4 separate regions of the Homo sapiens genome follow, and regions 1, 2 and 3 are each reported to be linked to region 4. The links are microRNA targets in miRTarBase. Many come from high-throughput screens and were not tested one by one. Region 4 holds a microRNA gene; each other region holds the end of a gene's coding sequence. Distances are between the middles of the regions.

Region 1 (3,197 bases), not on the chromosome of region 4:
CTCTCTCCCTGTCCACCTCCTCCCGTTCTTCCCTCTCCCCCTCCATCTCTCTTGCTCCCTTCCCATACCAGCATCCTTTGTCATCCCAGCTGTCTTCACCTGAGTCCAGTTGGTCCTTACCACCCCCATTCTCCTCTCTCCCACCCAGACTGCCCGGTTCCTGGGCCTGACCTGGAGATCAATCCCACTCTGGAGTCTCTGTGTCTGAGCATGACAGAACACGCCTTGGGTGGTGAGCATTTCCTCTTTCCCTGACCCAGCTCCCACCTACCCAGCGTCTCTGCCTCTGAACTGAGCAACTCAGAGTCATCCTGAGGGGTCCCCAGGGGAGGCCAGACTCCAGGGAGGGCCTGACTGGGATGACAGGCTACCTGAGTGCCTTTTCTTGGGCCTCCCTCCAGCTCCTGATCTTCCTCCCTTCCTCCCTTTCTTACCACAGATGGGACAGACAAAACCTCCACCATCTGACGGGACCCACAGCCCAGCGCACCCATAGGCTCCCTGGGCGGCGGGCGGGGGCCAACCCCCAACGGGCTTCTCCGCGACAGCGAGAGGGTGGGCTGGCTCAGCTATATATTCTAATATTTTTCTACTCTCTTACCCTCTTAACTTTTGTTTAACATTGGCACATGCCTTGCTCACTCCCAGGCCCGTCGAGGGATCTCTGCTGAGGCCCGGGGAGTTGGGGGCAGCCAGGATAAAGGGGGCAGGGACTGGCCAGACTGCCTGCCTCTCTCCTTTCCTTCCTCATCCCCACCTGGTCCCATCCCACCCCTGCCTCCTCCAGACCGCTGACCACCTGCCTCTCCCCAAGGGAGCAGACTCCCCAGAGACAAACTGACCACTACCTTGTGGAGCCTGCTCAGAAACATTTGACATTTGGGGTGACGCGCAGGGCAGAGAACCTGCCCTCCAGAATGTTATTGAGAGGAGCTGGGGAGAAGGAAGGGGAGCAAGGAGAGGAAGCTCTCTCTCCTCTCCCTGCTTCCCCTTCACCATTCCCCACATTCTGCAAGGACAGGAGCCACCTTCCTCTCTCTCACCTCCCCTGGCCCTGTTCACCAGAGGTTCTCTATGATTAATTTCTTAGGCCTATTTAAGATACATATTTATATAGTTCTTAACGGTTTTTCTCTGATCATTTCCTCTCATTTTTAGAATCCCCAGGTCTCTCTCAGCCAAGACAGTGGCAGGGAGAGCCTGAACTTTATGAGGGGAGAGGGCAGAGCCCCCTCCTCCAGACCCTCAAGCTCTAACCCATTTTCCTCCAGCCCTGGCTACCCGGATGAAGAGGTTGGAGGTGGGCAGCCAGGGTAGCCAGTGAGGTCAGGAAGTCTGTTGCCTTAACGTCCCCTTCCCCACGAACACACACCCTTCTCCGCTCCCAGGTCTGGTTGGTGAGACTTGGGAGTCAGGAATAAGGGAAAGGGGATTGTTTGGTTTTTGGGTTTTTCCCTAAGCCCCTCCCTTTTCTTTCAGCCTTTTTCCTTCCCCCATTATGTCATGACCTCACTTAAGTGGAACACTATATCATAACCCAGAGATTCGTCCCAGCCCCAGAGTCCGACAGACTGTCTGGTCCCTATTCCTAATGAGGGGTTGTGTTGGGGCCCAGGTGGAGGGAGGGGATTTGGGGGTTCAGACTGCGGGGAAGCCAGGGTCTCCCTCTTCAACGCCCTCCTCCCCCTCAACCCACCTTCCCAACTGGGACATTCTCAAGCTTTTCACACCGAAAAGGAAAAAAAATGTTATTTTTAGATACATTTTATGAATAACTTTTGTTATGAATATGGCTGGTAACCATTGTGTATGTTATTAAAGATACAAAATGTTGGGAAAAAAACAAAAAAAACAAAAAAAAAAAAAATTTTAAAACCACCACCCTCCCTGCACTATCACCCCATTCCCCAGACCTTCTTGCCCCCGCCCTCCTGGTCTGTGGACTTCCCTCTGCTCTGAGCCCAGGGAGGGGGAAGAAGCCAGGGGGTAGGGTGGCCCTGGGAACCTGGCTCTGGGTCCCCACTTCCTCTCCCAGTGCCGGGCTGGGTGGGGTGTCAGGTTTATTTATGTACCTCTTGCACACTCATCAACCTATGCAAGTCCCCCACCCCGGCCCTCCATGTTTCTGTGCCTTTGCTCATCCCCTCAATCTCCCAGGGCTTCTCCAGTCCCCCTCCCACTAGCTGCAGGAAGTGGGATGGATGGGCCACCTCGTTTGGAATCAGCAGGGTGTCCCTCTCATGGGACCCTCCCCTCTCCCCAGCCTGTCCTGTCTTGTTCACTCTCCATCAGGGTGAGCTGACTGTGCCTGGCACTGGGAGGTGGTGAGGGACACCGTCTCACACACACAGGGAGGCAAGAGCTGCCCCCCACCCCACCTGACAGCAGAGTGTGCAGGACGCAGGCGGCCCCACTCTGATGGGCAGGACCCTGACCCTCTCCCGCTCCAGCCCCCTCCCCAGGCCCTCCTCCATGATTTCACCCTCCCTACCCACTTCTGTCCCCGGCCCCACTGGCAGAATCAGCTTTGAGTAACTGTACAGTTTTTCTCGCTGTTGGAGAAGACTTATTTGTTGGAGTTTCACTTGTTTAATGGTCTGGGCTTATTTTGGAAAAAAAAAAAACAAACAAAAAAAACGAATTCTGACCTTCGTTGTGCTACATTTTGTGGGAAACCATTGGCCCTGCCTCTGGCCTGTGTTTCTAAGCCTCAAGCCAAGATCCTTGAGCACCTGGGGGTTGCGGGAGGTATGTGCTGGGCTGAATGACATCATAGGGGCTGGGAGGGGAAGTAAAGAGAAGTTGACTTTATTAACAGCAAAGGTTTGGGGGTGGGGAACAAACAAGTGAAAGGCTCACAAACAGACCACTAGAAAAGTGCTTTGCTGCTCACAATAATGGTGTCTGAACCAGCCCTGAATGCCCTGGGACTCAGTCACTGTCACTATCAGCTTCACTGGAATCAGAAGCTGCAGCTTCACTGCCATCCTCCTGGGCCGAGTGCTCGCTGCCACTGGGGAAGGGACTGGCGCTGCGGCTGTGGCTCCGGCTCCGCTGGCCACCCCCATTGCTGCCGCTGTCTGAATCATTGTCACTGCCACCTTGGGCCTGTCCTCTGTCCTCATCATCAGAGTCGGCATCGTCCTCAGAATCAGCATCACTGCCAAAGATCTCCTCTTTGTCACGGGCAGCCCGGG
Region 2 (3,000 bases), not on the chromosome of region 4:
ATCCCTTCTATTTCCTTTCAAAAAGTCAGAATGTAGTAATTTAATGACTATTTCATTTGTCATGCAAGTCAGGAAAGCCTATAGATTTGACTGTTAGAAGCTTTTTGTTTCTAATATAGTTTAATGCAACTGCAGGGTCCCTTTTTCTGATTTCAAAACTGACAGGCTATAGGTGAGTGTCAGAGACACCGAGAACCCCAGCACCCAGTTGAATTGCAGTGTAATCCTCCATTTTCTTTTCTTAACAGGGAAGCCCTAAGTAATCTAACTGCATTGACCAGTGACAGTGATACTGACAGCAGCAGTGACAGCGACAGTGACACCAGTGAAGGCAAATGAAAGTGGAGATTCAGGAGCAGCAATGGGTCTCACCATAGCTGCTGGAATCACACCTGAGAACTGAGATATACCAATATTTAACATTGTTACAAAGAAGAAAAGATACAGATTTGGTGAATTTGTTACTGTGAGGTACAGTCAGTACACAGCTGACTTATGTAGATTTAAGCTGCTAATATGCTACTTAACCATCTATTAATGCACCATTAAAGGCTTAGCATTTAAGTAGCAACATTGCGGTTTTCAGACACATGGTGAGGTCCATGGCTCTTGTCATCAGGATAAGCCTGCACACCTAGAGTGTCGGTGAGCTGACCTCACGATGCTGTCCTCGTGCGATTGCCCTCTCCTGCTGCTGGACTTCTGCCTTTGTTGGCCTGATGTGCTGCTGTGATGCTGGTCCTTCATCTTAGGTGTTCATGCAGTTCTAACACAGTTGGGGTTGGGTCAATAGTTTCCCAATTTCAGGATATTTCGATGTCAGAAATAACGCATCTTAGGAATGACTAAACAAGATAATGGCAGTTTAGGCTGCACAACTGGTAAAATGACTGTAGATAAATGTTGTAATTAGTGTACACGTTTGTATTTTTGTTAATATAGCCGCTGCCATAGTTTTCTAACTTGAACAGCCATGAATGTTTCATGTCTCCCTTTTTTTTTGTCTATAGCTGTTACCTATTTTAGTGGTTGAAATGAGAGCTAGTGATGACAGAAGGATGTGGAATGTCTTCTTGACATCATTGTGTATTGCTGGTAATCAAGTTGGTAACGACTACTTCTAGCAGCTCTTACCACTATGACTTAAGTGGTCCTGGAAGGCAGTAAGTGGAGGTTTGCAGCATTCCTGCCTTCATGAGGGCTTCTACCACTGACCACTTTGCACGTACCTGGCTCCCAGATTTACTTAGGTACCCCACGAGTTGTCCACATAAGCAGCTTCATCTTTACCTTGCCAGAGTTGACAATTATGGGATACTCTAGTCTACTTATACTTGTGTTCCCATCTGTCTGCCATCCTCTGAAGGCCGGGACCCAGTCATACATCCTTAGAAACCAAAGTATGGTTTTTGTTTTCTCTTGGAATGTCAGGTCTTAAGGCATTTAATTGAGGGACAAAAAAAAAAAAAGCCGATATAGTAGCTAGCTACTTAAGCATCCATGGGTATTGCTCCATATCAAAGCAGATTTGCAGGACAGAGAGAGTAAATTAGCCTTCAGTCTTGGTTTACAGCTTCCAAGGAGAGCCTTGGCCACCTGAAATGTTAACTCGGTCCCTTCCTGTCTCTAGTTCATCAGCACCTGCAGATGCCTGACTCTTGTTAGCCTTACTATTCAATACAGTCCTTAGATTCACGGTATGCCTCTTCCTATCCAGGCACCTATTCTGAATCACCATGTTGCTCTGCAGCTAGAGTTGATAGGAGAAAATCCATTTGGGTAGATGGCCTATGAATTTGTAGTAGACTTTCAAAATGAGTGATTTGTTAGCTTGGTACTTTTAAGTTTGTGGTACAGATCCTCCAAACCCATACTCTGAGCAATTAACTGCCTTGAACATAGAGAAAAATTAAGGCCTCACAGGATGAGTCTCCATTCTCTGTAAATGCTTATTTTATCATAGTCTTTAGCCTCTACTATGAGTAAAATGTTCTCTTCGGCCGGGTGTGGTGACTCACACCTGTAACCTCAGCACTTTGGGAGGCAGAGGTGGGAGGATCACTTAGGTCCAGGAGTTCGAGACTAGCCTGGGCAACATAGTGAGACACCGGATCTACAAAAAAATAAAAAGCCAGACTGGTGGTATGTATCTGTGTCCCAGCTAATTGGGAGGGTGAGTTGGGAGGATTGTTTGAGCCTAGGAGAGGGAGGTTGCAGTGAGCCGTGATTGCACCACTGCACTCCAGCCTGGGCAACAGAGCAAGACCCTGTCTTGGAGAAACCAGAATTTTGGAAGAGCAAATGGGGCTGAGTGCAGTGGCTCATGCCTGTAATCCCAGCACTTAGGGTGCCAATGTGGATTACCTGAGCCCAGGAGTTTGAGACCAGCCTGGGTAACAGTGAGACCCCCCTCCCTACAAAAGATTTTAATAATTAGTTGGGCGTAGTGGTGCATGCCTGTAATCCCAGCTACTCTGGAGACAGGTGGAGGGGATTGCTTGAGCCTGGGAAGCTGAGGCTGCAGTAGCCATGACTGCACCACTGCATTCCAGCCTGGTTGACAGAGTGACCCTTGTCTCCAAGAAAAAAAAAAAGCAAATGGGATTAAGGACTCATGGAATGGGAAGGGGAAGGGGAGTCTTACTATATGTGGAATAAACTTGCTCAGTGTTGCCACAGAGTTACATTACCAATGTGTAGAAGTCAGAAACTAGACTTCTAGTTTGGTTCAACATTTGAGGGTTGTTTTATAGCCATCAAAGTATTCAAGAGGTTGGATGGCACTCAAAAGATTCTACATGTCTAGAATCAAACTCAAATCTGGCACGTAGGTGCTTCTTAGTAAATGCTTAATGAATGCCACCAACTCTGCAAAGTATTCATTGATTTTGAGACCTTAGTCATGTTGCTACTAAAAGTAGGGCATATGACCGCCTAAGAAACAGAACTTCGAGAAGTCCTAACGTAACCACAGTAAAGCAGACTCCCCTTTCAGCAACC
Region 3 (3,197 bases), 78 Mb from region 4:
ATCCATTGCAATAAAATTTAACCAAAATGTTTCTGGAAGTTTCTTGGCCATCTGTTACAATAGTATCCAATCTAGAGTATCTATAAAAAGGAATGTTACTCCCTTTCATGCTTTTTTTGGCCTCAAATGCCAGAACCTTTCGAATTTGAGAATTTTCTGAGTCTTATCAAAAACAGGATGAGGAGATAAAAACAGAGTTCTGACTCTGTATTCTTTTCAGACTCTCAGAAAAGTGTCTGGATTGAACACAAAAAATTTAGGCTTATCAGGTCACTTTATTGCAGCAGTAACACTTCATTCAGAAATTAGAAAGGATTTAGTTTGACTAGATTAAAGCACAAATTTTTATATTAGTATTTTTCATTTTCTTTGTGCATTTTAAACTTTTAGAACTTTTCCCACAAAAAACATAGTACTAAATATGCATTTATGGAATTTAGCATCTTACGTTTATACTTTTTCTTCTTAATTTTATATTATTATAGCAGAGTATTCTCCGTATGAGTCTATTACAATAGAACTTTTTCAGTGTTATAGATCCAGTTTGATTCATTCCATTAAACTGAAAACTACATATGTGAAGTTTAATATACAAACACATATGCTGAGATCTAAGTTATATATACTTGTCACTGCTGTTTTAATATGGAAACTAACCAAGCAATTTCTTTTAGTTTCAGATGATCACTTTTTTCCTAAAATCAGCCAAATTTTGAAAAGAAAAACACTGTAGAGGTCTTTACAGAGTAAAGTTTTCATTTTTAAATTACTTTCTGTAAAATTGGGGAGAAGGTGTTTTGAGGGGAGTCTGTGCTAAAACTTAAAACAAAATTTAACATTTATTTTTTGTTTTTGATTTTCTTTTACAGACAGGGTTCTGCTCAGTTGAACAGGCTAGAGTACAGTGGCATAGCTCACTGCAGCCTCCATCTCAAGGCTCAAGCAATCCTTCCACTACCTCAGCCTCTGAGTAGCTGGGGCTACAGGTGGGCACCATCATGCCTGGCTAATTTTTAAATTTTTTGTAGACACAGGGTCTCATTATGTTACCCAAGCTGGTCTTGAACTTCTGGGCTCAAGTGATCCCCCTGCCTTGGACTACCAAAGTGCTAGGATTACAGGCATGAGCCACTATGCTTGGCCTAATTTTTTTTTTTATTTTTAGTAGAGACAGGATCTTGCTATGTTGCCCAGGCTGGTCTCAAACTCCTGGGCTCAAGCAATCTTCCCTCCTCAGCCTCCCAAAGTGCTGGGATTATAGGCGCAAGCCACCTTACCCAGCCAAAATTAACATTTATAATAGTGGGTTTGATGATTGGTCTTAGTAGTATGTTTTGTTGAACTTCTCAAAAATGAGAAAGTAACGTTTTATATAACTGGACATGACTGAATGAAATCATTTTCTAAAAGCTTATAATAAGGACATGAAAGGGTAGTATGGTCAAAATGTAGATTTTTTTTCCTGCAAAAGAACCATCCACAGGCAAATTATCTAAGTCCCCTGAATATGAAATATGACACTATTAGAAGTGGTAAGGTGCAACTGCATGTATGACAAAGTAAGTTGCTGAATGTCTTCACAATCAAAAGCACTAACTTTTAAAGGCCTCAAGTACTAAAGCATAATTTTAGGGATAGAGGAAAGTGTTCTTGTTTTTGTAAATGAGTATGGGTCATGGCATGACTTTGGTTTTATTTTGGGTCCTCAAACTGAGAGCTTTCTTATGATAATCTGTATATAAATAGCAAAAAAAAACAATGGGAATGTTCATAGGATAAATAATATGAGTGCAAATTTTTGCCAGAAAGTTCTGGAAATGTAGGACTTGGTTCTTTTTATAAGTGCTTTTAACCTTTTCAGACTCATTAATTTCATAAACCAATTTAAGCAATTATTTCTATCAGCTACAGATATTTTCTTCACAAATATAAAGGGTTTTGCTCCCCTCCCCATCCTCCAGCCTCCACCAATTTGTGCCTGTAACTGCCACTTGATAGCTGCTCAGTAAGACTTTAAATATCAGGTTCTAGTGCCAACAAATCCAGAAGTCAGAAAAATTCTAAGTTACAATCGCCAGAATATCTTTCATGCATTCTATTTTACTTTATTGTTACAGTTTAAACAAATTCAGAAACGTGGGGTGTTTCTGGCTACTTGAGTAAAACGCACTGCAAACGCAAAGGGAACAACGCTGTAAACTTAAATGATTTCTGAACAGCTCAGGATCCTCCTGGAGGGGATCCTTTTCATCTCACATATTGATTCTGAACACTATGTTAGCACCTGCTCCCAGAAGGTCCCTTGACACTGGAGCAAGTCAGAATATCTTAATATCATAGCTTATTTAACAGCAGGAAAGCAACTTTAACATAGACTTGAGGTTTAGGTAGATCTGGTATTATCTAGAACCCAGGCTTAAATTTTGCAAAAAGTTTCCAAAGAGCATAAGAAAGTAAAACAGAGGTACCAGAACTGAAGACATCATTAACAAACAAAATATTTCCACTCCTAACCAAACTGCAACCCTTTCAGTATAGCCTGAGGTATTTTTAAACATTTGTACAAGCTAAAGATCATTCACAGTTTCCAAAGCTGCTTTTTACTGAGATAGCTTCAAATTTTCACAATATGTGACTTTCAGACGTTTTCATATACCAGAGTCTCTGCCCTCAGACTCATGGAAACATCAGAGATATTTAGTGGCAGAAAATGGTTCTTCTAGTGATAAGGGTTCTATTTCCCAATTATTGTGCTATTCCTAGGATGTGATTAAAAAAATATGAAATTTGCAATTTGTATAAAAGGAAAGGAAACTTGCTTAAAATTCAAAAAGCAAGTCCAGTCTGGTGGAGGTATGTAAGATATTAAATAATAGAGTCAGATTCTTTCTTGAACATTCCAGATGAACTTGACAGCAGAGAGTTCTGGTTTTCCAACATTTTCTCCATCTTTTCTTTTCCAGTGGTTTTACTGATCTCTCTTTGCTTCTTACTATGGATCCACGGGATAAAACAAAGCACAGCACCTCCAATAAGGGGAGGGACTCCAGCGAGGTAGAATGCCACATCATAGGAGCCCAGTTTGTCACGAAGTAACCCTGAGAAGGGAAAAAGCTGTCACCAAGGGAGAACAAGTGTGGCTCTGTAGGGGGTCTAGATCAGCCACAGGACTGATTCAGACATCTCAGACATCAGAC
Region 4 (3,197 bases):
TTCCAATCTTTCTATTAAATTTTCCAATTGTTTTTAGCATTCTATTATTACTTTTACAGATCAAGAATTCTAATTAGAATGACTTTAAACTTGTTTGCTGTTACATGAACTTTCTCTATTAAATCTGTGATAATTTTCATGTTATTTTATTCTCATCTTCTCTTTCATATTGTAAGAGTTTCTCAAACATTTGCTCTGGCCTCTTCAACCTTGTCCTTTACCTACTGTATACCACCTTATTTCATCTCAAGATACATTTCTTCAAGCCACTTCTAAACTGCCCCAAACCATACCTGGTCCCTGTGCAACACTCTCTCATTTTACCTCATTCTTTTTCTTTATAAATGTTTCAGACCTTGTAACTATGTTTGTGGAATTATGTAATATATGTATTTTCCTCCCACTGGAGTGTAAGTTCTATGAAGATAATGAATGTAATTGTTTTCACATTATTTTAATAACATTCAACAAACTATGAGTACTTATTGTAGCACTGGTACTCAATGACCATTTTTGCATTTTTGATGAATTAGTGAATATATAAACAAGTCTGGGGGCTTAGTCCAGCCAATAATAAAGCAAGCATTACTTTGCTTTCCTTTGTTATTATTAGTTCCTGCATACACATTCTTTATAGTTGCATTCCTGAGAGGTTCTTACAGTCTTGGGCAGGCCTTGGACAGGGTTTCCTAAATGTGATAAAAATGAGAAAAACTGAAAAACTAACATAACTTCAAACAGAATGCTTGTCTGCCTATGTTTATGGGACTTTCCTGAATACATTTAAAAAAAAAACCTTTGTATTACAGAAAATTTCAACTGTGTGCAATAGTACAGAGAAGAATTCCATGTATCAACAGCCTTGCTTTAACAATAATCAATTCATGAGCAATTTTGTAAACCCACCCAGTTATCATACAGGCACATACTGGATTATTTTGAAGATATTTTTAGGTATCATATTTCATTTATACATTTTTATTATGAAAATCTAAAATATAATGGCTTTTTAGAAACATAACAGCAATGCCACTAACACATTTAAAACGAGATAAATAATTCCTTAATACACTCAGTGTCAATTTTTCTGATTGCCTCATATAAATTTTTTAACAGATGTTTTGTTTGAATATGAATCTAGACAAAGCTCAGCGTTTGGTTACTATATTTCTTCAGTCTTTTTCAAGTGTATAGCTTTTCTTTTCTCTATTTTTAACTTTTTTTGCAAATTGTTTGCTGGAGAAATCTTTTTATTTAATCTAGTAGAACTTCTCATATTCTGAATTTTGTTGCTTACATCCTTGTGGTGTCATTCATCATGGGATTTTGTCTTGGACTCCAGAAAATAACAATAACACAAATTTGTTAACTTCTATAAACTGCTTACTATGGGCCAGACTGTGTGTGAAGTGCTTTATTTGTAATGTTTAATTCTTCATATCTCTAGTTTGTATGTGGTAAGTACAAACCTGAAATATTTTACGTGATTTTTACGTTTTGTAATTTTTATTTATTTATTCATTTATTTATTTATTTTTAGAGACGGGGTCTCGCTGTGTTGCCCAGGCTGGAGCGAGTGCAGTGGTGCAGTCAGTCCTAGCTCACTGCAGCCTCGAACTCCTGGGCTCAAGCAGCAATCCTCCTGCCTCAGCCTCCCTACTAGCTGGGACTACAGACTGGTCTCCATCTCCTGGGCTTTAAGGGACCCTCACCTTGTGCTGAGATTACAGGCATGAACCATTGTGACTGGAAATTTTGTAAAATTTAAACAATGTGATATTACCTATTAATGAAGTCATACTTTATGTATGTAATCTGAAATAATTCAGATAACAATTTTTAAGAATCATTTAATTTAAAATCATGCAGCCTGATTTATAACTGTTTATAATAATAATATAATAATATAATAATGATGATTTCACTTTGAACTTTTAGCTGATAAAAAGATATATTTGCTCTATTTTATAAAACTAATTTTAGCTATGCTATTTTAACATTATATAAATACTTTTTGAATACATTCTTTCAGTAAAATCCAACTACCATTATATTTGCTTTCCTCAGTATTTCTTGGGGAAGGATTCTAAATAGGGGAGCATTTGTGTATTTCTGTATGACTCTGGTTATAATGCCATTCAATGTAAGCCTTACACACACACACACACACACACACACACACACACACACACAAATGCACACACCTCCAGAATGCTGGGTTCTTGGCTCATGAATCATTGAAATTTATATAAAATTTATTTTAAATCCTATTGCAGAAAAGTTCTTAGCACATTCATGCATTTTCATGTGACCATTTTTATACTACAGTTTTAATTTTATATATTTGGGATCATTATTGTTGACCTTTTCTTTTCTTTTTTTTTAATAGAGTTTATTTTAGAGAAGTTTTAGGTTCCCAGAAAAATTGTAGAGTACAGATAGATGTATCCCATATGCTCTCTGTTCCCACACATGCATAGCCTCCCCCACTAGTAACATCCTTCATGACAGAGGTACATTTGCTACAACTTATGAACTTACACTGACACATCATTATCACCCAAAGTCCATAGTTTATATTAAGGTTCATTCTTGGTGTTGTACATTCTATGGATTTGGGCAAGCGCATAATGATATTTATTCACCATTGTGGTATCAAATAGAGTAGTTTCATTGCCCTAAAAATCCTCTGTGTTCTGTGATGGACGTTTTCATGATCACCACTGGTTCAGATTCCCTGCACTTACTAATTCCCAGTCTGCATTTATAATTATTTTCTCCCGGAGTCTCCCCACCTCCTCCCCAAAGTAAATATGGATAAACTGCTGTTGCATATAATTCACCTTGACTTAAAATTTATGGGACATAAGGAGGGAATATACCCCTTAGAGAGTTAAAAACCGAAGTCAAATATTACAACTTCTTGTCCTAAGAGTTCTCTTAGCAACCCAATCTCAGCCTCTCAAGAAAGAAAAAAATCCTCCAGTTAACATATGAAAAGAAACTCACTTTTACGTCTACGCTTGAATCTCCTAAATCACTAAAGGGCTAAGGAAAACAAATGTACTTTTCATATAATATGATCCATTCTTTTTAATAAATCCATTATAAACATAACTGCAGTGTTTTCTTATATATTTATATACTACGTGTAAGGCACTGTCTATATACCAAGATTATTCAAATTCTGTCAATAA

What was found. The annotated mature microRNA hsa-miR-3135b reads GGCUGGAGCGAGUGCAGUGGUG and lies in region 4 at 1,566-1,587, shown strand. An mRNA with a match to its seed (bases 2 to 7 or 8) in the 3' UTR can be bound and repressed. Matches are read on the target gene's strand: a 7mer-m8 pairs with bases 2 to 8, a 7mer-A1 pairs with bases 2 to 7 and ends in A, and an 8mer does both.
Region 1: miRTarBase lists SAMD4B as a target of hsa-miR-3135b. Seed matches in the 3' UTR shown: 7mer-m8 at 1,266-1,272 and 7mer-m8 at 2,445-2,451.
Region 2: miRTarBase lists PTCD3 as a target of hsa-miR-3135b. Seed matches in the 3' UTR shown: 7mer-m8 at 2,241-2,247.
Region 3: the mRNA of SLC16A10 is a reported target of hsa-miR-3135b. The part of its 3' UTR that is shown has no 7-base or 8-base seed match.

Annotation. Positions count from the first base shown.
Region 1 is chr19:39,383,060-39,386,256 of GRCh38, forward strand. SAMD4B (sterile alpha motif domain containing 4B) reads left to right here. Exons shown (of 14, transcript NM_001384574.2): 13 at 149-232; 14 at 440-2,641. The coding sequence ends at 468. It overlaps PAF1 (PAF1 component of Paf1/RNA polymerase II complex), which reads right to left. Exons shown (of 14, transcript NM_019088.4): 14 at 2,570-3,197. The coding sequence ends at 2,932. Among named protein-coding and RNA genes, the nearest start is that of PAF1, 6.4 kb to the right of the region's middle.
Region 2 is chr2:86,137,221-86,140,220 of GRCh38, forward strand. It overlaps PTCD3 (pentatricopeptide repeat domain 3), which reads left to right. Exons shown (of 24, transcript NM_017952.6): 24 at 249-3,000. The coding sequence ends at 339. Among named protein-coding and RNA genes, the nearest start is that of SNORD94, 2.9 kb to the left of the region's middle.
Region 3 is chr6:111,221,904-111,225,100 of GRCh38, reverse strand. It overlaps SLC16A10 (solute carrier family 16 member 10), which reads right to left. Exons shown (of 6, transcript NM_018593.5): 6 at 1-3,098. The coding sequence ends at 2,866. Among named protein-coding and RNA genes, the nearest start is that of SLC60A2-DT, 36 kb to the left of the region's middle.
Region 4 is chr6:32,748,342-32,751,538 of GRCh38, reverse strand. MIR3135B (microRNA 3135b) reads left to right here and starts at 1,560; the gene lies at 1,560-1,627.